5 separate regions of the Homo sapiens genome follow, and regions 1, 2, 3 and 5 are each linked to region 4. Evidence: fine-mapped expression QTL. A gene starts in region 4. Each other region holds a variant in brackets. All regions are shown on one strand. Distances are between the middles of the regions.

Region 1 (5,101 bases), 61 kb after region 4:
CTTTCCCCCAACTCTGAGTCCCCAAAGTCCATTATATCATTCTTATGCCTTTGTGTCCTCATAGCTTAGCTTCCACTTATAAGTGAGAATATACAATATTTAGTTTTCCAATCCTGAGTTACTTCACTTAGAATAAGAGCCTTCAGCTCCTTCTAAGTTGCTGCAAAGGACATTATTTCATTCCTTTCTATGGCTGAGTAGTATTCCATGGTGTATATATGCCACATTTTCTTTATCCACTCATTGGTCGATGGGCACTTGGGTTGGTTTCGTATCTTTGCAATTGCAAATTGTGCTGCTATAAATGTGTATGCAAGTGTCTTTTTCATATAATGACTTATTTTGCGGGGGGGGGGGGAGGTGGTTACCCAGTGTGGGATTGCTGGATCAAATGATAGTTCTACTTTTAGTTCTTTAAGGAATCTCCATACTGTTTTCCATAGTGGTTGTACTAACTTATATTCCCACCAGCAGTGTAAAAGTGTTCACTTTTCACCACATCCATGCCATGGCTGCTTTTTATTGAGCACATATTATATACGAGCCATTGTGCTCAACACTTTACATCTGTTATTTACTCTTAGGGTTATTCTAAGGATTAAGTATTTCTGTCCTTTTACAGATGAGGAAACTGAGACTTACAGGGGTTAAGTCACTCACTCAAGGCCACACAGCCAGTAAGGTGGCAGAGCCCTAGAGCAGCCTCTCAAGCTTCAATGTGCGTTTGAATCACCTGGGGCTCTTGTTAAACTGCTGCTACAGATTCAGCAGGTGGGAGAGTGGAACTGAGGTACTCTGTTTCTGACGTGCCCCCTGGGTGGCCCTACTCCTGGTCCCTGGAGCACTTTGAGCAGCGAGAGTTTCTCTGCCTGTATGGCCCACACTCTCGACCCTGATGCCTTAGAAACAGCTGCAGACAGGATGCGATTCCTGAGACTGCTCAAACCTGAAACCCCATGGGCAGGATGTGGGTGAGCTGTCTGGACCTCAGGTGGGTGGGAGTTGTATCATATGCTCATTTCCCACATTGGCCTTTCAATAGCTTGAGTAAACCCGAAACTGAGAGGGTTGGAGGCAGCATCTCCCCTTCTACTCCCCCGCTTCACCTCCCCGGGCAACCAAACCCCACCCGTGCCCAGCTTCTGAGCGATAGACCTGGGCTGTGTATTTGCAGGAGCCTCACTGGGGTCACCAACCAGGTCATGTTGTGTTGCCCCAATAAATGGAACTGGATCAGAAAATCCAACGTGGATAGTTTTTAGGTGCCAAGCTGTCAGCTCTTCCCTTGGACTGTGCTGAAAGTGGAAGAGGAGAAAAAAATCAACCCAATGTTCTAAGCTCTCTGTCTACATAGTCATTAGATCCCAGGATCGTTAGAGACCAAATCCCTTCCCACTTGGCCCCTGCAAATGGGGCCAGGTGTCACTGCTGGGAGACGCCAGTAAGGCTGCACGTCATGGTGTGAGCACTTGTCTTTAATGACTGGGAAAATCCATTTCCTTCCTTGGCAGCTTTGAATGTAGCAACTGTGGTTCTGGGTCACTGCCAGAGCCAGCCTTGTGTGTATGTGTGTGATTTTTTAAAGTGGGGGAGAATGTCTCAATATTCAATGCTCACCCCCTTCCTTCCAAGTTGTACCCCCAGAGAACTGTCCAACACAAACTTTGGAGTTTTCCACTCTGGGAGTGGTCTGCTGGCACCCACGTGTCCTCCCCTCCTCTAATGCATCCTTTCTCTCTTGATCTCATTGTTCTGGGGTCCTCAGCTGAGTGGGCATCTGTGCCTGGGTGATCGATTCTAGTCTCTTTTCTGCAGGAGAGAACTCTTGAGCTCTGAGACAGGTAGAAAGAAAATCTTAAACCAAATAATAATGTTCTGCCTCACACTAGTAAATATTTTGCACTAAAAAATTCCGTGTCATTTTGATTTGTTCAGGTAGACAAGAACATCTTTTGTTTGAGGAAGAACTGAAGAGATTTCTTGGGATTCAGCTCCGATGGCTCTGCCTGTATCTCTCTATCATTGG[A/G]GCTTTGTTTTCCACCTTTGCAAGACTTGAGTGAAGGGAAGGCTTTGTGGTCTATTGTTAGGTGCTCTTTGAATCTATAAATCACAGGCTACAGGAAGGGAGGGGCTTCCAGAGACCATCTAGAGCCACCCTCTATCTCTAGCAGGGACACACACACACACACACACGTACACACACACAATGACTGCCTGTTGCGCGTTTCTAGAACCTAGTGGGGACAGGGGTACAGTTTCTTTTGGTGCATAGTTCTCATGTTGATTGGTTCCGACTGTCATGTTCTTGCACCTGTCCTGAGTATCTCTTGCTGTAGCTCTGGCCCTTTCCCCAGTCAGCTACTGCACTGCCCTGGCCCATGTTTCTTAGAGACATGGTTATCTCTGTGCTATTAGTGTCTGTGTCCTGGCCGAGGCAAGTCCCTTCCCTTTCTGAGTCTATATTCTTATAAAATGTGGCTTTGAGAATAGATGATGTTTCTGGTCTTAAAATTCTCTTTGACTCTGGAGTTCTGGATCTGTGCTTCTGTTTGATGTTGTTTCTCTTGCTGGGTGACCTTCTCTCTGACTCCCTGCTGTAAAGACCTCCTTTTTTTTTTTTTTTTTTTTTTTTTTTAATCAAAACCTAACTTGGTCCGACCTACCCCATGGCTGACCACCCAGGCACTTGCTTTTGACTTAAGGGTAGCACCATACGATGTCTTCTTTTTGTTTTTCATTTTAACAACCTGTATTTTTCACATCACAAAACCTTTCTAGATATTCACTGTAGAAAATTCAGAAAATATAGGTCAATAAGAAGAAAAAGATAGAAATCACTAAACTTCTATCAGACATAACCGCTGTTAAGAATTTGGTATATTTTCTTTCAGTCTTTTTTGTAAACACTCATACATAGGCCAGTGAATTTCATACTATGTAATTTTGTGTTCTGCCTTTCCACCTAATAATATATACTGAGCATTTTTGCCTATCATGAAACATTTGTAAACACAATTTTTAATACCTATTTACTACTTTACATCTCCTACTTTAGCCCTTGCATAATTATTTCCAAATGGAACAAATATCTGTCTTGTCCAGCCCACTGAACTGGCCAAATCAAATGAGATAAAATATGCAAAGAGCTGCACAAATATAAGTGATGATTGTTCATTTTGTTAGTTTTATCTCCCCAAGTGAACTACTTTACCGTATTGTCTCAAAATCGTTAAACAGTTTCCTGTTCACCAAGTTTTGCACAGTGGTGGGCAAAACATGCTGTCTGGCTGTAATCTCTTAAAAGGGCGTTACATATTAATAACTTTAAAAGTTTTTTCTTAGCAACTTCTTAGAAACTCTGGTCTAAGGAAATTATTCAAAATGTTATGTGCACAGAGATGTTCACTATGGCATTATTTACAATAGCCCCAAACTAGAAATCACCAAAATGTCTAATTATATGGGAAGGAGGTGAAGTAAATGATGATGAACCCACTTTCTAAGCTATTATATAGCTATTAAAAGTGATGTTTACAAAGCCTTTGTAATAAAATTGGAATATGTCATAATTATGGGAAGAAACAAAGGTACAATATGAGAGGGAAAAACAAAGGTACCTGCAGAGAAAGACGCCAAAATGGGAATGGTGGTTGTTAAATAATGGGCAGTTGTTTTCCTTCTCTTTTTCTGCTTTTCTTCAGCGAGCTTGTGTGCCTTTGATACATTAAAAGGTAGAGAGACAGAGACAAGAAGAGAGAGAGAGGAGACGAGAGAGAGAGAGAGAAACAAGACGAGAGAGAGAGATGAGACAAGAGAGAGAGAGGTGAACCTTGTTTTTAAAATTACCTGAAAGGATTTATGCAGAAGAGAGAAGGAAGGGGCACAGAGCTGAGTTCAAGAGAAGGGAGTGACCCAGAAGTGGGAGAAGCGGGCATGAGGGCTGAAGCCTGAATTGAGCTGAGACTTGTAGAAAATTCTCAGAACCACCAAAGGAGCCTTTTAATTTTTTTGGAGTAGGAAGAAAACAGGCACCTCCTTTGAGCATGCTAATATAATTATAAAAGGAGAAACCAAAATAGCTAGTTCCTAATTTGTTCACCAGACTTCTTCCTTCTCTGACCAGCGTGGGGAACAGGCTTGGTGAGACGGACATGAAGACCCATCCAGGCCATTGAGGAACTGGGGGCTAAGAAGAACTTCAGGGAGACTGACAATGGCCACATTCTGTTGTAATTTATAAAAAGTGAAGGAAAATAGAATTGTGTAATGTATAAATTTGGGTGAAAATAACAGCCTCCAGTAAAATTTCCTAAATGAGTTAAAAAAAAAAAAAAAGGCATTTCAGACTTACGGAAAAGTTACAAAAATCTAGCAAGGATCTTACGTTTACCTTCACCCAGATTCCGCAAACGTTAACATTAATTTTACCCTGTTTGCTTTCTCTCTCTGTTTTTCACTCATTTGCTTTACATATATATCATATATATGCACACTGTATGTATAATATATGTATACACATGTACATACATATTGTCTTGTGAACCAATTTGAAAGTTGCAAATATAATGTCCTCTACCCTTAAATACTTCATTGTATATTTCCAAAAAGAATGACATTTTTCTTTTTCTTTTTTTTCTTTTTTTGAGATAGAGCCTACCTCTGGGTAGAGGCCTAGGTGACACAGCAAGACCTCTGTCTCAAAAAAAAAAAAAATATATATATATATATATATATATATATACACACACACACACACATATATATATTTCACATACCATAAAATTCATATACCATAATATCTGACTTTTAAAGTATAAATTTTAGTCATTTTATTTCATTTTTGAGACGGAGTCTTGCTCTGTGGCTCAGGCTGGAGTGCAGTGGCGCAATCTCGGCTCACTACAACCTCTGCCTCCCGGGTTCAAGAAATTCTCCTGCCTCAGCCTCCTAAGTACCTGGGATTACAGGCACCTGCCACCACACCTGGCTAATTTTTGTATGTTTAGTAGAGACAAGATTTCACCATGTTGGCCAGGCTGGTTTTGAACTCCTGGCCTCAGATGATCCGCCCACCTGGGCCTCCCAAAGTGCTGGGATTACA
Region 2 (5,101 bases), 110 kb after region 4:
TCTTCCTGGCAGGGAATGCAGTTTCCTGTTAATGAGTTGTGAGAGGTTGGAACAAGTTATCAGAGAGAGGCTGGGAGGACTGCTTCCCGGGGCAGCTTCCAGGAGATGGAAGCCAGGCCCCAGCCTCCTCCCTTTGGGCGGCTCAGCTATTTGAGGAGCATCTCTCAAAGGGCTGAACTAAAGCCTGGAGTGAGAGTCCCCAGCCTAGGCCAGGACCTGCTGGTGGATCTTGAGCCCCTGCTGCGAGCTTCTCCGGGCCTTAGCTGCTGCACTCCCCTGCCTCAGCAGGGACTGGCCGGAGTCCCCTCCCCTCTGCAACCTCGGGTTCTCAGAGGGACCAAAGCCAGTAACCCCATGACAGACGGATCTCTGTGGTTCCTCGCTGCTTGCAAAGCACTCACACTTGTCATCGTATTAGGCACTCACAACAATCTGTTTGAGAGAAACAGGCTCAGGGAGGTGAAGTGCTCAAGGTCATTCTGCCTGGTGGGTCTGTTTAGGGTAATGCTGGCTGCTGTGACAGATAAACCCAGAGACTTCAGTGCTTGGAGACAACAGACATTTCTTTCTTGCTCATGTAAAGTCATATTGATGGTGGGGAGAGCTCTGTTCCCTCTGATGACTCAGGCACTCAGGGTGATGGAGGCGCCATCATCTTCAGGTTGTAACACCCAAGATTGCCTCGGCCTTGGAATATCCATGAATGGTTTTTATGGGCCAGGCCTCAAAGTGGTGTATGGAGCCTATGCCCACACCCCATTGGGTCCTGCGGCTCCACCTAGATGCAGAAAGGCTGGGAAACGCAGTGCCTGCCTGGGCGGCTATTTCCCTTCAACGGCTCTGTCTAAGGAAGGGGAACTGGTGCAGAATCGTTGCTGGCACAGTAGAGGATATTACCCTCAAATAAAGGCTGGGGACCCCTAGTGAGAGTTTGGTCACCTAGGCGTCAACAAGTGCCCAGTGTGGTCTGAGACCTGGAAGAAGACTCGCTGTGTGGCTCTGACCCCAGAAGGATTCTGGATCTCCAAATGCTGTTCCAGCCTTCTCGGCAGCCTCTTGCCCCTTCGTTAGCTTCTAATGTACATGGTTTGCTCATGGCCCAGCCCTGAGACACCCCTCTGTGGCTCCTCATGGCCCTCAACATAGAGACCAAACCCCTTGGCCTGCATTTGAAGTCTTTCCCAGGATGGCTCCAGCTGACTGGCCACATTGCTCCCCTTATTCCCTCCCCCGAAACCTATGCTCCTCCCTGACCAGCTTCCTACCTCAGGGCCTTTGCACATGCTGTGCTCTCTGCCTGGAATGTCCCCCCTGTTGCTCTCCACCCTGCGGGTTCCTGCTCATCCTTCCCGATCCATCACAGGTCCATGAGGCTTCCTGAGCAGAGTTAGCCACTCGGCCAGCATTTATTGAGAGCTTACTGTGTACCAGGCACTGCAATAAAAGCTTCCCAGGAATTAACTCATTGAGCTCCCAAGCCTACAAGGCAGGCGTCCCATTTTCTTTTTCTTCTTTTTTTTTTTTTTGAGATGGTGTCTCGCTCTGTTGCCCAGGCTGGAGTGCAATGATGTGATCTAGTTCTGTCACCCAGGCTGGAGTGCAATGGCATGATCTCGGCTCACTGCAACCTCTGCCTCCAGGGTTCAAGCAATTCTCCTGCCTCAGCCTCCCGAGTAGCTGGGACTACAGGCGCCCACCACCACGCCCAGCTAATTTTTATATTTTTAATAGAGACAGGGTGTCACCATGTTGGCCAGGATAGTCTCCATCTCTTGACCTCATGATCTGCCCACCTCGGTCTCCCAAAGTGTTGGGATTACAGGCATGAGCCCCCGTGCCTGGCCAGGCATCCCATTTTCTAGATGAGGAACCCAGGTCTGTGAGGAGTGTGTGTGAGGTCACACAGCTGCAGAGTGGCAAAGTCAAATTCCAAACCCAGGTCCCCGTGGCTCACAGCCAGGCCTTAACAGCTGCATAAACTTCCACCTATTCTTAGCACCTGTCACAAGGCTTCATAATCATTCATTTACTTGCTGTTTTGCTGGGAAATTGCTTACTGTCTTTCTGAGAAAGCAGCTGCAGCCTCCGTAAGGACAGAGGTCAGGCCTGATGCATCCTAGAATCTTCCTCACCACTGTCCCCACCAGCACCAAGGCCAAGGTCTGGGTGGTGATTTCCTCTCAGATAAATCCCTTACCCTTTGAGAACCAGAAAGAGAAATTCCTCAGATTATGGTCTGTCATAATCCCCTCCCTGCTTCCCTGTCAGTTTTTGACAGTTACCCTGAAACCGTTTTAAAATGATCTCAGAGGCAGAGACTGGCCTTCTCCACGCATGATTAAGCACGATGGCTTTTTAATGATTTGAGCTGTGCCTTCTGTGAATTGACAAAAATGGATTACCATATATTTCTGAAAGCCACACTGCCAAAATCAGATTTTTTTTTTTTTTTAGTTTTCTCAGCCATCCTCGAAAACCTTAGCTGAGAATGACAAATACTAGGGGCTTTAATTGTTCAGTCACATGAGGGTGGTGCCTCCTGAGTTCTGAGAACTGCTCTCGCCAGGAAAGCCTTGAAATGCTCCTGGGCTTCGATCTTTAGGAAATTGAACTGTGTGTTTTCTCTGAAGCGGAGAGCTGTCTCCTGGGCCGTGGCACGTTTGCTGCATTTGTGAATTGTTTGGGCACTGAGGTCTGAAACAGAGGCAGTTCTTGCCCCAGAAGCATGCTCAGGGCTGTCACGACTGGATGAGGCCTGGCTTGGCTGTGGGTGGGTGGACAGGGCAAGCGGGGAGGGGGTTCTCCCTGTGTGGGCACTTCCTCCTCCTTTTCACTCTCCTGCCAGACTCTGTTCATGGAGTCCTGCACCCTTCACCTGATTCAGGCCACCCACATCTGCGACAGGGTTATTGCTAGTACCTTGGACAGATGCAGACTCGCTGCTGGCTCAGAGAGGTTAAGTCATTTGGCTGTGGTCACAGGCTGGTAAGCCACAGAGCCAAGGCAC[A/G]TGGTTTGACCACAAGCCTGTGCTTCCCCCACAATCGCTGCTGCTTTAAAAAAATCAAATGAGGCCAGGCCTGGTGGCTCATGCCTGTAATCCCAGCACTTTGGGAGGTCGAGGTGGACAGACCGCCTGAGCCCAGGAGTTTGAGACCAGCCTGGGCAACATGGCGAAACCCCGTCTGTACAAAAAAATTAGCCAGGCGTGGTGGCATGCTCATGTAGTCCAGCTACTCAGGAGGCTGAGGTGGGAGGATCACGTGAGCCCAGGGAAGTCAAGGCTGCAGTGAGCTGTGATCGTGCCACTGCACTGCAGCTTGGACAACAGAGTGAGACCCTGACTCAAAAAATAACAATAATCATCATCATCGTCATCATCATCATCATCATCATCATCATCATCATCAAATGAGAGGCAACTCATAGGTATCCTCTGTAGTCCATTTACATTTAAGGAAAACAAACCTCATTGTGTATCCACTAGCATCAGTGGCTTCAGTCGTCTACATTATCTGCATTTCACAGAGGAGGATGTTGAGGCTCATGAGATAAGGTAGCTGACCAGAAGTCACACAGCTAGTAATAGGACAATTATGATTTTATTCTAAGTCTACCTGATTCCAAAGTTTCTGCCCTACTCTGTCCTTTGTAGGAATCTGTCTCAGGCTCCTTCCTCCCTCTCTAACACAGGTAAGTCTGGCAAGGGGAAGCCTGAGTGGCTTCTGTGAGGTTCTGGAAGGGGCCTGTGGACCAAAGAAAAGGGAGGCCCTTGGTCTATAGGAGTGTGGGCTGGTCTCCTCTTTACTGATGCTGGGAGTAAACCAGATGGATTCGTCATGGCCTGATGGAGAGAAGGCCACCTGTCTGGCCTGTGGTCATGTGTGCTCTCGGCTCCTGCTCTGTTCTATGTCAGGGTTAATTTACTATATATTTACTCCAAACCTACCATGCACCTGGCATCACACTAGGCTCTTTGGTGGCTCCAAAGATGCATCTGGCAGGATCTCTTCCTTCCAGGGCTACCATCTGTCAGAGAAAAAGACCAACTCAGACCCTCCTATGAGTGAGCCTGGGCCAGGGGATCAGTGGTGGGGCCCAGAATGGTGTAGGTAAGAAGAGCCATCCCTCGAGGGCATCTGGGGGGGCTCCTGCAGAGGGTGCCCAGGCTCCTAGGGAGAGGCGGCAGCTCTCTGCAAGGTAGTGCCTGCTGCAGGGGGGCCTTGCTCCAGCCCAGAGGTGGGAGATAGGGTCAGGCTAAGCCACAGGCCTTCAGGAGGTAGCCTGTGGTCTCAAAGCCAAGAGTACTTCCCTGGGACCTTCTTGGACCCTCCAAACCAGGCCCAGTCTCCCAAGTTGTGCAGGAATGGAATGGCACAGCAGTGAAGGGCAGAGCAACCAGGGAAGATGGCCAGAGTTGAGTCCTGGCTCCCTGTTCATCAGCCCTGGGAGGTTTAGATGATTCTCTAAGCCTCAGTTTCCCCATCTGTAAAACAGGGGCAGGAATTGCACCCTCCTCCTCAGGTGTTGTGAGACTTAAAAGAGGTGCTGTCTGTGGTGCGCTCAGCAACATGGTGTCGGCCTTCACGCAGGTTTGCGTCTGCGGCGTCCGGCATTTTGCATGATCTCTAGCCCTCAGGATGGTTTGCAAGGTGGAGGTCTTGCTCCCACTGTGGAGGATGAGGAAACTGAGGCAGCTAGTAAGTGGTGGATCCAAGCGTGGGTTTCCAGGACTCAACCCATTCTGCTGGCCCACTGCCTGCAGCTAAGCTATCCCAGCAACTACAAAGACCCTCCCTGGGGCTCAGCTCCCTACCAGGCTCTCCTGGCACTGCCTCTGCTATCTCTTAATGTTTTACAGGGGTGAATGGGACCTCTTTGATTTCCTTTCTTTTCTCCTTTCCAATAATCATCATTAATCTTGTTATCAGAGCCATGCATCTGCACCTCTTGGCTGTGGTCCACAGGCCGTGTTTGCCATGATCAATGCATAGCTCTGTGTGGCCACAATGTATACCCAAGACAGCACTGCAACCCTGTGTCCGTGGGCCTGGGAGGCTCTGGCACTGTCAAAGACAGCTGGAGGCTCCCCCAGGAGCTGAGG
Region 3 (5,101 bases), 150 kb after region 4:
ATACAAAAATTAGCCAGGTGTGGTGGTGCATGCCTGTAGTCTTAACTACTGAGGAGGCTGAGACGGGAGAACCACTTGAACCCGGGAGGTGGAGGTTGCCGTGAGCTGAGATTGCGCTACCGCACTCCAGCCTGGGTGATGGATTGAGACTGTCTCAAAAAAAAAGGTCAGGAGTTTGAGACCAGCTTGGCTGACATGGTGAAACCCTGTCTCTACTAAAAATACAAAAATTAGCCAGGAGTGGTGGCACAGGCCTGTAATCTCAGCTACTCAGGAGGCTGAGGCACGAACATTGCTTGAACCTGGGAGGCAGAGGTTGCAGTGAGCCAAGATCGTGCCACTGCACTCCAGCCTGAGTGACAGAGTGAGACTGTCTCAAAAAAAAAAAAAAAAAAAAAACCCTCCCCAAAAGAATCCCTCAAAGTACCCCTAAAGCAGCAAGCAATGAGGAAGTGTTGAGAGTTGGGTGGGATAGGAGTCGGCCAGGCAGTGGTTCTGGGGTTGAGACTGTCCAGGTGCCAGGCAGAGCAGTCAGTGGAGAGGCTATGGATCAGGCCCTGTCACACCCTTCACGTGGCACCAGGGCAAGGCCACGTCACCATCCCCGGGTTGGAGCCTGCAGTCCGTTGGGCAGCTCTCCCTTCCTGCCTCCTCATAAGGTTTCCTCCATGCATCTGAACCAGCTGCCTCCCATCCTCAGCAGGCTGGGTGCAGTCGGCTTCTTCGGAAGCATGAAGGCTCACCTGGTGTCCGTCTCTCGGCAGGTCAGGAACATCCGCAAGGTCCTCAGGAAGATCGAAAAGCCCTTTGGCCTCTACCCCAACTTCCTCAGCCCAGTGAGTGGGAACTGGGTGCAACGTGAGTACAGAGACGCCACTGCCCCTTATTCAGCGGGTTCCTGCCCAGGCTTCCTAGGAAGACCCTGCCAGGCCCCTGGGCTGAGTGAGGATGTGTCTGTCAGAGCCATGCAGCCAGCAAGGCATTCGCTCGGTGCTCCTGGACACCACCTGCCTTCCCATGCATCCTGGGGGCTTGCCTGTGGTTGTCTGCTGCTGCAGTGCCGGATGTGATGGCTGCTGTTTACTGAAGGCCTGCCCTGTGCGTTCCAAACCCTACCTTCTCTGGCCCCATCAATGGCGCAGCCTTCCATCTCTTATGCTGCTGCGGGAGCCTCCTGCATTATACCCCAGGTTCTCGGGAGGGTCCCAGGTGGAGTCATCCATTCTAGAAGTGGCTCCAAGAGAGGCCAGGCATCCTTTCCAAGCCTCTTTGATCAGGCTCCCCACTTCCAACTTCAATTTTTTTTTGTTTTTTTGTTTTTGAGACAGAGTCTCACTCTGTCACCCAGGCCGGAGTGCAGTGGCACGATCTCGGCTCACTGCAACCTCTGCCTCCCAGGTTCAAGTGATTCTCCTGACTCAGCCACCCGAGTAGCTGGGACTACAAGCATGTGCCACCATGTCTGGCTACTTTTTTTGTATTTTTAGTAGAGATGGGGTTTAGTAGAGATGTTGGCCAAGCTGGTCTCGAACTCCTGACCTCAAATGATCCAACCGCCTCGGCCTCCCAAAGTGCTGGGATTACAGGCGTGAGCCACCACGCCTGGCTCCAACTTTAATTTAAAAAACAAACAAACAAACAAACAAACAAAAACCATACAACAGTGTAGAAATCATGAATTCAGGCCAAGCACCTGACGGGAGGCCGAGGCAGGCGGATCACGAGGTCAGGAGTTCTAGACCAGCCTGGCCAACATGGCGAAACCCTGTCTCTACTAAAAATACAAAAAGTAGCTGGGTGTGGTGGCACGTGTCTCTAGTCCCAGCTACTCAGGAGGCTGAGGCAGGAGAATCGCTTGAACCCGGGAGGCGGAGGTTGCAGTGAGCCAAGACCGCACCACTGCACTTCAACCTGGGCGACAGAGCAAGACTCCGTCCCAAAAAAAAACAAAAGACGTCATGAATTCATCTATACATCTTAGACCTACAAGAATCAGTCCCAGAGTTTTCAGAAGGTCTCTGTTCAGAGACTTGTTTCTCAGCCAGATAACAGCCAGTCACCCATGGAACATCATTCACAAGCCCCCAGCCCTACCCATTGCAACAGAATGGGGTTTGGGGTCGCTTAGGTGTGAGAGTGTGGACAAGTCCCCCAGGCCTCTGGAATGTGCATGCCTGTTGAGAAGCCCAGCTCTGGGAAGCAGAGGCAGGCCCTGGTCACATGGTCATGGTCAGCTGGAACTGGCAGTGACAGGTTCCGTGGGCACTGCCTCTAGGGCCTCCCAAGACCTGGCAGAGCCCCCACCCCCACTGTCTGTGTGCAAACAAGGACCCCCTTCCCTTTCCCCTGCCTCCAACCCAGTTTTTGTGACATCAGCAAGGGCTCAGGGGCAAAGTGGGTATGAGTCTAATGACTGTGTGGCTTAGGGGGGAATTCACTGTATCTCTTTGAACCTTGGTTTCCTGTCCTGCAAAATGAAAGAAGAGAATGAGATGCATTCTTTGTGTGCCATGGAGGGGCGTAGGAAGAATGGTCAAAGGCTGCAGGAAACAGATTTCACTTCCATCTGCCAAAGATGGTCCAAGTTGTCCCAAAAGGGAACAATGCAAGTGGGGCCTAGAGAGGCAGCATTGGGGACACTGTGGCGAAGCAGCTGAGGCCTTTCCTTCCAACCTGAACCTCCCCCAGAAAACTCAACCCAGGAATTTCCCCCAGGGACGACCTCACCCCAAGTGGCCTCCCGTAAAAACCACTTAGAGAAATGCAGAGTATTTTTAACCAAAACACACTGCCGAATCCAAAAGTACGGGGAGAAAATGAAGCTTGAATTGCAGATTATAGCCACGGGAAGAGGCAGTTCGATAACAGTTGCTGGTTTTAATTGCGAGACCTGACTGGATAAGGAGATAAACCCCTCTGAGCTGCTCCAGGGCAAGGCAGCAGAACCCATGAAAAGGGCTGAAAGGGGTGTGGGCTTCCTAGCTCAACAGTTACCTTGGCAAATTATAAGGGAG[C/T]CCCTGCCGGGAAGCATAATTTTCTTCTCAGGCAGAGTCAGGGCCTGCAGGTCTGGGCAAAGTCAGTCGCATATGGGAAATTGTTTCCTATTAATAAAATCTGAGCCCTCGGCCTGCTAAAGAGCAGAGGGGGTTATAATGCCCAGCTCGCCCAAACGTCTGCCTTCCTCCTCCCCTGGCCTTGGTGCCCGGGGTCATCTCAGGTTTCCTGTGGTTTTTTGTTGGTTTTTTTTTTGGTGCATACGTATTCTTTTAGCACTTGATAGCATTACCACCTTGCATAAGCTTAAGTGCACGCACATCATTTTCTCTTCTTGAATCTTCAGAACAAGCCTGAAGGCAGGACAGGCAGGTTCTGCGTAGCCCATTTGCAACCACAGAAATTGCAGCCTAGAGAAACGAAGGAGGAGTTAGGACTGCATCTCAGTTACCTAGGCCTCTGCTCTTGTTGGCTTCCCACTCCTCCTGGAAACCGAGCTTCAGGGGTAACAGGGGAGCCCCAAGACCCGTCCTATTGCTAAGAGTTCACATCCAGGATAAATCCACCAGGCTCCCGATGGTGCCCAACACAAATGAGACCACCCTGAGGCCAACCCCCTGAGAGCTGCCGAGGAGGGGTCACCAGCCCCTCGGTGCGGCACCTGAGTAACTTGTCCACTGCCTGAATCCCACACTTTCTTCTGTGGGAGGGAAGTGGCAAGTCCAGACCTCCTTGGTAGGTACAGGAGTGTGAGCTGCAGCCTGGCAGCTTCCCTGGCATCAGATCGGCTGATTTCCAGGCTTGTGGCCCAGCCTCCTGCTGCCAGGTGTGACGAGCGCATTGGCACGGTCAGGAAGCAGCAGAGCCTGCCTCTGCTCTGGGGCTCACGGACACCAGCTCGTGCCCCCTTCACACATCTGCAGATGGGGAGACCAAGGCCCAGAGTGGGCAGGGGTGCACCCTGAGCTAATGCAGAACAATGTCTTCTCATTCCTATGCCTGTGCTTCTCCCAGCCCGCCTCGCAGTGTTGGGGAAGACCACACTCGTACACACACACACACACCCCTACCACCCCACCCACCCTCCCAGACACACACACATTACACACTCCCCCATACACACACACCCACACTCCCCTCACATCCACACTCCCCTCACACACACACATTACACACTACATACACTCCTACTCTCCCCTCACACACCCACACTCCCCTCACACACTCCCCCCACACACAGACCCACACACCACTACCCTCACATACGTCCACACTCCACACACACACACACACACCCCTACCACCCCACCCACCCTCCCAGACACACACACATTACACACTCCACCATACACACAGACCCACACACCCACACTCCCCTCACATACATCCACACTTCCCTCACACACACATTACATACTACATACACTCCTACACACACTCCCCTCACACACACTCCCCTCACACACACCCACACACACAGACCCACATACCACACTACCCTCACATACATCCACACTCCCCTCACACACACACATTACACACTCCCCCCACACACAGACCCACACAGCCACACTCTCCTTACATACATCCACACTCCCCTCACACATACATTACACACTCCCCTCACACACACAGACCCACACACCCACACTCCCCTCACATAATCCACACTCCCCTAACACACACGCATTACACACTCCCCTCACGTACATCCACACTCCCCTCACACACACTACACACACATTACATACACTCCCCCCACACACTCCCCTCACATACATTCACACTCCCCTCATACACACACATTACACACTCCCCCACACAGACCCACACACCCACACTCCCCTCACATACATCCACACTCCCCTCACACACACCACACACACATTACATACACTCCCCCACACACACAGACCCACACACCCACACTCCCCTCACATACATCCACACTCCCCTCACACACACACACACTCCCCCCCACACACAGACCCACACACCCCTCACATACATCCACGCTCCCTTAACACACACACACTACATACACTCCCCCTACATACACTCCCCTCACACACCCACAGTCCCCTCACATACATCCACACTCCCCTCA
Region 4 (5,101 bases):
CATGCTCTGTGCTTGAGCTGGAACATCCATCTTCTCCTGCCCTTGGACATCAGCTCTCCTGGTTCTCGGGTCTTCAGACTCAGACTGGGATTTACACTATCGGCTCTTGTGGTTCTCAGGCCTCCTGGCTTGGACTGGAACTACACCACCAGCTTTTTAGACCTCCAGATTGCAGATGGCAGATTGTGGAACTTCTCAGCCTTCCATAATCACAGAAGTCAATCCCTCATAATAAATCTCTTTTTATATATCTATATATAGCCTATTGGTTCTGTTCTGGAGAACTCTGATTAATATAGATACTTATAACTCATCCCAAGTCTCTCTAAGCCTTGGTATTCTTATCTGTAAAATGGGGCTATTAATAATTATCTACCACAAAGATTATTCTGAAAAGTAAATAAGACAATATGTATTTGGCACATAGAAAATGTTAGTTCACTGTTCTTCCATTCCCCGAGCTTCAGTTTCTACATCTGTGAAATGGGCATCTACTCACTCATTTCTTCATTCATTTACTGAGCAAACACAGTGCCCATGTGGAAGGCATTGTGGTTAAGACCCGGGGCAGTTAGAGAAGTTAGAGAGTTAGAGAAGTGAGGAAGCCGTGGTGAAGAACTGAGCATCTGCTTTGTGACAACACACCAATAGTCTTTAAAAGTCAGTGGGAGAAGAGCCACGGGATGTATGAGGTCTCTGGGGGCTAGAGGTGTGGGGCAAGGGGACACCCAGGGTTTCAGAGAGCTTTTTAGAGAGACTGGTATCTCCCTAGCAAGTGATGGTATCAACAACTTGGTGTGATCACCAACATCACATCACTTTGCAATGGAGTTACCTGCTGGGGCCTCTGGTTTTCATAGCCTGAGTGTGAAAGGCACGTCAGTCCTGCTGCAGCCCCACTTTCCACCCTGGCTCACAGAGCACACCAGAGTTTGGTCAGAGTGTCACATCACAGTGAGCATCTAGTTCAAACAGACATTTCCTTCTGAGATTCAGCTCTGCTCTTCTCCCTTTCTGGATCCTACCTTCACAGGGGACTGAACAGTGATTCCCCTACACTCTCAATGAGGAACAACACAGATGATGACTCTAATGAATGCTGGGTCCCTGCCTGGTTCTCCAAAGACAAGGTTGCCCTTTCCTGCAGTGGGACCCAGTGAGGCGATGCTTGGGTGTTGGAGACATGGGTGAGGCCAGGCCAGGTCTCTGGGCTCCTGCACCCAAATGGGTCACATGCTTATCTCTGATTTGCACAGCTGGCTCCACATCAACCTGCCAACGAAACTCACAAGAGATTGAAATATCTGAATTAGAATTTTATATTTAAGCTGCATATATTTGTGGGATTGGGAAGGATTAGTCATCTCCAGTGACCAAAATGTTTGCACCTGTTACCCACTTTCATTTTCAGTTGAGAGAAAGTTGCATGCCAGGGATATTTAAACATCGAGGGTGGGTCTGCTGTCAGTGGTCTGGCCAGAGGTAGAAGGATGACTGAGTCCCAGCCGCCCATCCCCAGCAGGCCTCAGGGAAGAAGCAAGATTTACGAGGCGAGAGCCTGCCTGGCCCGCTTCTTCTGTCGGGAAAGGCTTCCCTGCAGTATTTTCTGTCTCGTCAACACTGCATTTCATTTTAAATTGCAGCTGAAAGTAGATATTTTCCCTCTTGCCTATTACAAACCTCTTAATTTGTCTCTCCCTCTGCTGTTATTTGTCTCTATAAAGTGTTTTGCATGAAAGACCCACACAGCACAATGTTGCTTCACCCTGGGTTAGGTTTAACAGGAAGGGAAGATGCAGAGACTAAGTCCAAGGAGGAAGATGTGAGGGCCTTGGGGTTGAGGACACGCGTGTCTGGGAGTTGATGCCTGGCTGTTTTTGGAGGTTATCTGTTGCCTGAGTGTCTGTGGGTATGCGGGTGCACATGTCCATGTTTGTACTAATTTACATATATGTCTATGCATACTGTGGTATAATCACTTGGGTGTCCATACCCAAATTAAGTGTATGTTTGAGTGCATGTACACACCCACATGCCAGTCTCTGTGTGCATATAGATCTATGCCCAGACGCACACATGTGCATATAAACACACGTAGGCATCAAGGTAGACGTCCGTCACATTATGTGTGTGGTCTTCTGTAGACACGCCCGGGGCTCTCTTCCTTTCGCTGCTTCTCAAGGCTGCGGTCAGCCTCCCTCCGTGCTCCACCCAGGAGCCCTGGCCCCGTTTAGGGTTGTGGGAAAAGGAAGGCACGCCAGTGGTCTGCGAGGGGGCCAGTGGAAACATCACCTCCGCCGACCCGGCCGCGGTCACAGCTCTCTGGCTTGGCTCCAGCCACCAGCAGCACCCCTGCAGCCCGGCGTTAGCGCTGAGAAGCCCGGGGCAGCCGCCAGGGCGCGGGCTGCCAGCTCCCTGACAACCCCGGGCTGGCACTCGGGGGCGAGAGAGGTCACCCAGCGACGGGCACACCCCTCCAGAGCAACACCGTCTCCGGCCCGCTTCCGGGGGCCACCAACCCGAGCCTCGCGGGCGGGCTGGGGGGTGGTCTCTGTCGCTTGGGGTCCAGCGAAGGCTGGGCAGTAACCAATGGACGACTGTGGCCCAACGGGGATCCCTCGGATGCAGCCAATGCCCTCGTTGCGCTCTCCGCCCCCGCCCTCGCCTGCCCCGCGCCGCTGGACCATTGGCGCCCGCTGGATGGGGGGTGCGCGCGACGCCTGCCCTTCGGGGAGGGCGGGGCTTGGAGCGGGCTGCGCTCCCGCCCGCGCTCGGCCTCTGCCCCGCCCCCGGACGCGCGGCCCTCAGCCGGCTGCGGCGCGGCGGCGGCGGGAGGGGGCGCGGGGCGCGCGCGTGGGCGTGGCCGGCGGGCGTGGCCGGCGGGCGGCAGGAGGCGGGGCGGCGGGCGCTGTCGCAGTGAAAGCCCGAGCGGCGGCGGCGGCGGGGACGGCGGTGGAGGCGGCCGGGTGGCTGTGCGCGCGTGTGGGGCGCAGGCTCGGCGGCAGCGGCCGGTCTGGAGCGGCCGCTGCGAGGAAGACAGCTGCAGCGGGGGAGGCGCGGCCAGGGCTGCGCGCTCCGCGGAGCCGGCGGGGCCGGGAACAGGTGATCCCAGTGGGAGCCCCGCGCCCTGCCGAGTTCGAGGGGCGGGAGCCCGCGCTCCCGGGCGCATCTGCAGCCGCCCAGCCGCGGCTCCGGACCCAGGCATCCCTGCGCTGTCTGGGGCCCGGGGGAAGCCCCCTGCCCCCGCAGGCTCGGAAGTGCCTGCTCCTGCTCCCTGGCCACTCCGGCTCCCAGCTCCCGGCGCCCTCTCCGCGGCGGAGAAAGTTGTGGACGTGTCCCGATAGTCGAGCCCGGGCGCTGTCGCGACCGGGCCGGGTGTGCGCGCGCTCGGGGCGGCGCTGACACGCCAGCCCCCCATCGCCTCGGTCCCCTCCGGAAACTGCTTCTGAAGCTGAAACTTTGGGCGCCTACCAGCGCGGGCGGGAGCCTAGGGGGCGGAGGGCGGCTTGGTGCGGGCCTGCGGGCGCCCCTCGGCGCGGACAGCCGGGACGCCGCGGACGGCATGTGACGGTCCCGGCGGCCGCAGCGCGGGAAGGCGCGGGCCCCGGCGCGGCGGGGAGGGCTCGGCCGGAGGGGAGGCTGCGGCGCGCGGCCGGTCGCTGCGGGCCCGGGCCCCAAGCCGTGCCGCTCCGCTCGCCCGGGCCCCGCCGAGGCCGCTGCGCCCCCGCCTCCTCGCGGGAGGACTCGCTCCAAACTCCCTGAACTTCGGGGACAGTCCCCCGAAGCGGCGAAACTCTCAGGGTTGGCAACCCTGCCCAGGGACCCCCATCCCGGGCGGCGCTCCGGACGCCCTCCCCTCACCGCGCCCCCGCAGACACGTGCCTGGACTCCGAGGGCTTCTGGAGCCACCGGCCGGGCCACGATGCTCATGAGGAAAGTGCCCGGCTTCGTCCCGGCCTCCCCGTGGGGGCTGCGGCTGCCGCAGAAGTTCCTCTTCCTCCTCTTCCTCTCGGGCCTGGTCACCCTGTGCTTCGGGGCCCTCTTCCTGCTGCCCCACTCCTCTCGCCTCAAGCGCCTCTTCCTGGCCCCCCGGACCCAGCAGCCTGGTCTGGAAGTGGTGGCTGAAATCGCCGGCCATGCCCCGGCCCGCGAGCAGGAGCCGCCTCCCAACCCGGCCCCCGCCGCGCCGGCCCCGGGCGAGGATGACCCCAGCAGCTGGGCCAGTCCCCGCCGCAGGAAAGGGGGGCTGCGGCGCACCCGCCCCACTGGACCCCGCGAGGAGGCCACGGCGGCCCGGGGCAATAGCATCCCGGCCTCCAGGCCCGGGGACGAGGGCGTCCCTTTCCGCTTTGACTTCAACGCATTCCGGAGCCGTCTCCGCCACCCGGTCCTGGGAACGAGGGCCGATGAGAGTCAGGAGCCCCAGAGCCAAGTGCGAGCCCAGCGGGAGAAAATCAAGGAGGTATGGACTCAGCCCCCAAACTCCTCCCACCAACTGCCCCCTCTAAGGAGAGAAGACCCTCTGGCGCTCCCACCCCTTTCCCTTGCCTCAGTCACTCCTGGTCCCAGGTCTACTTCTGGCCCTGCAGACTGCACTTTGCACCTTCCCCTTTCCTCCCAAATGTCCCACCTTCTTTCCTCCCTACACAGTTTCCCACCACTCGGGTCAGTTAATCGTCCCCACCGTGACAGATGGCAGCTGAACCCCTAGACCAACTGCCCCCTCACTCCCAGACTCTGGTATGTCGTATCCAACCCCCAGGCCCAGTGAGCTCCACTCCTTCCCTTTGTGGAGTTGCTAATGAGAGTGGAGTTCAGGTTCCTTAGTGCACCCTCTTTTTGCATTTGTGGACACAGAGCCACTGGTCCCATTCTTTTTCACTGTGTGACCTTAAGTCCAAAACCCCTATAGGACCTGCTTACCTAAAAACCCAGGATTTAAGGGGGTATTTGGTGTCCTGCAAATATTTTGTAATCTAGTAAGCAACCTACAAACCAGAGGATGTTGTGCATTCTGTTTCTATTGAGCTTATTGAGCTTCAGAACAATTGTACACAATTGTACATAATTGCATATGATGCAGGAAGAGATGATAAAGCAG
Region 5 (5,101 bases), 130 kb after region 4:
TGGAAGGTTGGTGGGGAGGGGTATGAGAGAGGCAGTGGGGACCCTTGACCTCAAGGGGCTCACAGTCTAGTTAGGGAGGCAAAGCCCCACAGTGCAGGGAGGTAGTGGTGGGTGCCCAAGAAAGTGCTGTGGGCACTCTCAGGGCAAGAAGAGGTTAGCTAGTGGAACCAGTTCAGGCTGCCCCTGGGAGGTAGACCTTGAAGAACATGTTAGTGTTGAACATGCCAAGATGCACAGAGAAGATTTCTTGGCAGAGAAGACCACACTTGCCAAGGTATGGAAGCAGGAGCTTGCACCCCTTCCTACATGGGTACTGAGGAACCATTGGCAGTTCCTGAGCTTGGGGAGAGACCCAAGTTGGATCTGGCTTTAGAGTGAATAAGAGGTAAAGGGAAGGGGTCTTGGAGATAGGAGGACCCTTTTGGAGGCAACTACACAACCAGATCAGGTAGTGATGGCCTCGGCAGCAGATACAGATGGGACCTGTGGGGCGGTTTTCCTTTAAGTTGGGCCAAGGGTTTTTGCAAGCTGCAATCTCACGCTCACGTTGCCCTGCAGGGTGAGAGAGAGGGCCGGGAATGTAGTTGCACCCCAAGGCCTCACTGACCCAAGAAGATTTTTGTGGAGGGGCTGCCCAGTGCCAGTAGGGGCAAGGAGGGCCACATGTACTCACTATCATGCCAGCCCTTGTCCATCAACCTACCCCATTTAACCCTCCCAGGAGCCTTATGAGGCAGGTCCTAGTGTCACCGCCATTTTGCAGATGAGGGAAACGAGGCACAAAGAGGTAGAATGGCTTGCCCTATTGCACAGCTAGGGTATAAGAGGCCAGGATTTGAACATCTCCCTGACACCAAAGCCAGCCTCTTAGCTATGTGTGAGGTTGCCTTGCAAAGGCTTTATTCAGTAGCCAAAGGTCCGAACCCTCCCAAAGGAAAGGATCAAGAGGGTCTCCCTGACCTCGTTGCCCTTCCTCACTCCCTGGCCAGGCTGCTATTTCAAGGTGAACTAAGGGACCCCAGAACTGATGAACAATCGGTTCAATGAACTGATTTATCAAGCACTTAGTCTGTGCCAAGCATATAGGTTGTATTTATCAGATGTATCTAGGCCAGGTGTGTATGTGATGTATTTATCCTGGCTCAGGAACCTGCAGTGGCTCCCCAGTGCCCTGGTCCAGTGGTCTTAACCTCATTTTATAGATGAGAACTTTGATGCTTAGAGCAGATGTGTTGCTGGCTCATAGCGGCATTTGAACGCGGGGCTGCTGATTTCTGGGCCTGTATTATTTCTAAGACACCTCACTGCCTTCTGCACTAGCAGGAAGGGGTGAACCCCATGGCTTCAGAACTGGAACAGGAAAGTGGACCAACATGGAGCCCGCCCCAGCCACAGCCCTAGGGAAGCGTCCAAGCTGGCTCTTTGTGTATAAATCATGGTCTGTTTACTGAACAGGGAGTGTGTCTTTCCTCCTGGGGAGCTGCCCCAGGGTGGCTGCAGGTGCAAATAGGGTTGAATTCAGGATAGGGCCTTCTCTCCTGCCCAGCCTGACCGCTGAGTAGCCTCTGGACTGGAATGAAAGGCTTTCCAGTAAGTGCCTTGCTGGACTGCAGCTCAGCCATGTGCCAGGTGGGAATGGGGGTGGGAGACCAACCAAGAGAAGGATTCAGGAGCCTGAGAGCAGGGGCAGGAACTTGCCAACAAATCTCTTAGCAAGCTGCTTTCTCAGCTGGCCTCATAGAGCGTCCCCAGGGACGTCACGGGGCAGAGCTGGTCACGAGGAGTCCTGGCTGCCCTCCCAGCCTGATCTAGAGGAAGAAGGGCGCATGGGGTGAAAACACCAGGGAGCTCAAGGCAGGATTCAGAAATCAGACACTGCGGCTGCCTCTCCCCTGGCCTTGAAGGACATACGGCCTGGGCCTCTCTTGATCCGTAACTGATCAGAGTGGGTGGGGTGGGGTGAGCAATCAGATCTGCAACTGTTTTCACAGAGAATTGAGCGGCCCTGCAATGCCTGATGCGTGGAAAACACATTCCACTTGGCCTGGGGCTGGGCCAGTCCCCCCTTGGTCTAATCTTGAGTGTGTCCCATCCCCTCTCTGAGGTCTTCATCTATGACAATGAAGGGGTAGGGGCAGCAGGATCCCCCAGATTCTTCCAGGCCCTTCAAACGTCTGGTTTGAGGTCCTGTGATAGAACAGGAAGGGGCCTGAGCTACAGCCAGGAGCATGGACACCAGGCCTGTACCCTGTGTGCTGGGCACGATCTGCTTTGCTCAGTCTGCCTGGGCTCCTCAGTGCCTCCCTGCTTGAGCACCTCGAGAGGGTGAATACGGGCCAGGAACTCTGTTCAGCCCTGCCACCTACAGGGGAAGCAGCTGGGATGAACCGGCAAAGGATCAAGTCTGTTTGGCTTTGGGATGTGTTTTCCTACCACTTCTTAAGCATGGGAGGGGCTGACATTCTGGAAATTCACTTCAGCCCAAA[C/T]AGGGAAGCCATCCCAGGACGCAGTGCTGGGTCCTTCCAGCCTTCTCCTCCCTCCTTGGCGAACTCCCTTCTGGTAATAGATTCTCCGACCTCCAGCCCATCCCAGGACACAGGGCTGGGTGCCTCCAGCCCTCTGCTCCCTCCTTGGCGGGCCCTCCCTTCTGGTAATAGATTCTTTGACCTCCAGCCTCATCTTCCTCCTAACTTCTCCCTCCCTCTCACCCTCACTTCCATTCTTTTTCCAGGCTGTATCCTTTTTCAGACCTTGCCCAGCCTAGAGAGGTGGTTAAGTGTGTGAATTTCAGAAGGATTCTCTGCCTTCAGTCAACACAAGTGAGCAGTTAGGAAGCACTCATTAAGGAGATTAGAGGCTAACTCTGAATTCAGGAGGTGCCGCAAAGCCCACGCTGCAGACTCAAGTGGGCTCAACAGGCTCCAGAGTTTCCACTGCGGAAGGTGGAGCCTGTGACTCTCAATGTTTTCAGCCTCTGCAGGGAGGACACTGAAGGAACAATTACTCCTCTTAGGGTTACACTCTGGTCCCTAAAGGAAACTACTGCTGCCTGCAATGACTCCATAGTTGTAAGGAGTTGATGGGAGGCGCCACCTCTTTCAGGAAGCCTTTCAGATAGTAGCAGGCATGTCCCTTTCTCCCTCCCCTCCACCTTCACAGTTTTCTGCACTGAGTGCAAAAGGCTCTGGTTGTGCCAGAGGGTGTCTTCCTCATTACTCTTCTGTCTGGTTCATGGGATGGAAAACTATCATTTTGCACTTATCTCAGCCTTTACTCCCAGGACAGGTGCCTGATGCCCAGTGGTAGGGGCCAGGCCTCGTAGCTGGTTCGTGCACTAGAATGAGAATGGCCGCAAATTTTTACTTTGTGTATTTGTTTGGTTTCTTTGCCCAAATTTTCTTTCCTTTTTTTTTTTTAATGGAAATAAGTTTCTGGTTATAAGAAAGTAACCCATGAGCTGAAGAAATCAAAAGGCACCTGTAATCCCGGCACTCAGAGGTAGTCAGTGGGTCATACCAGACTTAGTTCTGTACACTTACACTTTGATGTACAATAAGAATTATACTGTGTTTTTTTCTTATTTGCAATTTACTTAAAAAGAAAGAAAGAAAGAAAGAAAAAGATCCCGTGGATGTCTCCCCAGGTAAATAGGCACAGGTCGACCTCACCTGCGTGGATGACTGCATGGTATCCTATTTTATATTTGAGCCATAGTTCACCCTCTATTAGCTACAACTAATCTTGAAGAGACAGAGGATTGGCACGGTTGATTTTTGGGCCAGGTGCAGTGGCTCACGCCTGTAATTCCAGCACTTTGGGAGACCAAAGCAGGCAGATCACTTGAGGCCAGGCATTCGAGACCAGCCTTGGCCAACATGGTGAAACCCACTCTCTACTAAAAATACAAAAATTAGCTGAGTGTGGTAGCATGCATCTGTAATCCCAGCTACTTGGGAGGCTGAGGCACGAGAATCGCTTGAACCCAGGAGATGAAGGTCTCAGTGAGCTGAGATAGCACCATTATACTCCAGTCTGAGCGACAGAACAAGATTCTGTCTCCAAAAAAAAAAGATTTTTGTATGCCAGGCTGGATGAGGTGGCTCACGGCTCACGCCTGTAATCCAGCACTTTGGGAGGCCGAAGTGGGTGGATCACTTGAGGCCAGGAGTTCAAGACCAGCCTGGCCAACATGGTGAAACCCCATCTCTACTAAAAATACAAAAATTATCTGGGCGTGGTGGTGGACACCTGTGGTCCCAGCTACTTGGGAGGCTGAGGTGGGAGAATCGCTTGAACCTGGGAGGCAGAGGTTGGAGTGAGCCGAGATCGCACCATTGCACTCCAGACTGGGTGACAGAGTAAGACCCTGTCTCAAAAACAAACAAACAAAGATTTTTATATGCCAAAGCAGAGAAAAGTGGGTGGCTGATTGGCACTGATAGTTGACCCGCTGACCAACAGAAGAGTGGACCGAGTCTGGGAAGTGGCTCAGCCTGGGCCCTCGGTCTCTCTGGCCGCTGTTTGCTGCCTTGAGGAGGAAGCAGCCCATGGCGGGGACTCTGGGTCTCGGCGTCACCTTCGATGGTGGCACTGGAGTCCCCCGGATGGTGCCTGAGGCCAGCCTTTGCCACCAAGCCTGCGCTGGCATTGGAGGGGCCCTGAGAACGGTGGCTTGTCCAGTTGGGGAAAAGAGAAAGATGGCCCTGGGTCACACCCTCAATGCTCTGTGCCTGCAGGAGGCCTCAGCGGGGCAACAGTCATTGACTCCCTCGATACCCTCTACCTCATGGAGCTGAAGGAGGAGTTCCAGGAGGCCAAGGCCTGGGTGGGAGAGAGCTTCCACCTGAACGTGGTGAGTCAGAGGCCCTCGGCGGGGGAGGGGGGCGGGGGCCAGAAGAGGCCCAACAGCCAGCTTCACCCTGTCATCTCTGAGACCCAGAGATGTTGAGGGTCTCTCCCACGGCTGCACAGCCCAGCAGTCTCGGAACCGGAGCTGCCGTGCAGTCTGTGCTGAGTCCCTTCCTTAAGACAGCCTTGAGGTGGGGACATCCTCCCCAGTCTAGCATCTTCCCTGGGGAGGGGACACAGCCACGACCATCCA

Which allele goes with the higher level. Positions count from the first base shown, and alleles are read on the strand shown. Sizes are in standard deviations (SD) of each study's normalised expression. Not every link is listed here.
With allele T in place of C in region 5, the expression in sigmoid colon of the gene that starts at base 2,916 in region 4 is higher (moderate effect, 0.59 SD a copy in GTEx).

What was found. PIP is the estimated chance that this variant, and not a neighbour inherited with it, causes the effect.
Region 1: its variant is fine-mapped to the expression of MAN1C1 in whole blood (TOPMed, PIP above 0.99).
Region 2: its variant is fine-mapped to the expression of MAN1C1 in whole blood (TOPMed, PIP above 0.99).
Region 3: its variant is fine-mapped to the expression of MAN1C1 in whole blood (INTERVAL, PIP 0.98).
Region 5: its variant is fine-mapped to the expression of MAN1C1 in sigmoid colon (GTEx, PIP above 0.99). The same link has a PIP of 0.9 or more in esophagus muscle, gastroesophageal junction and tibial artery.

Annotation. Positions count from the first base shown.
Region 1 is chr1:25,675,239-25,680,339 of GRCh38, forward strand. All of the region lies in intron 1 of MAN1C1 (mannosidase alpha class 1C member 1), which reads left to right. Among named protein-coding and RNA genes, the nearest start is that of MAN1C1, 61 kb to the left of the region's middle. RefSeq lists a silencer at 1,006-1,075 and an enhancer at 1,156-1,205. The variant A/G (reference allele first, on the strand shown) is at 2,027.
Region 2 is chr1:25,727,966-25,733,066 of GRCh38, forward strand. The region is part of intron 2 of MAN1C1 (mannosidase alpha class 1C member 1); the gene reads left to right. Among named protein-coding and RNA genes, the nearest start is that of SELENON, 70 kb to the right of the region's middle. The variant A/G (reference allele first, on the strand shown) is at 3,008.
Region 3 is chr1:25,763,110-25,768,210 of GRCh38, forward strand. MAN1C1 (mannosidase alpha class 1C member 1) reads left to right here. Exons shown (of 12, transcript NM_020379.4): 7 at 765-858. Among named protein-coding and RNA genes, the nearest start is that of SELENON, 35 kb to the right of the region's middle. The variant C/T (reference allele first, on the strand shown) is at 3,015.
Region 4 is chr1:25,613,876-25,618,976 of GRCh38, forward strand. MAN1C1 (mannosidase alpha class 1C member 1) reads left to right here and starts at 2,916. Exons shown (of 12, transcript NM_020379.4): 1 at 2,916-4,462. The coding sequence starts at 3,923. RefSeq lists an enhancer at 2,182-2,351 and silencers at 2,542-2,831, 2,852-3,141.
Region 5 is chr1:25,741,932-25,747,032 of GRCh38, forward strand. MAN1C1 (mannosidase alpha class 1C member 1) reads left to right here. Exons shown (of 12, transcript NM_020379.4): 3 at 4,737-4,852. Among named protein-coding and RNA genes, the nearest start is that of SELENON, 56 kb to the right of the region's middle. The variant C/T (reference allele first, on the strand shown) is at 2,487.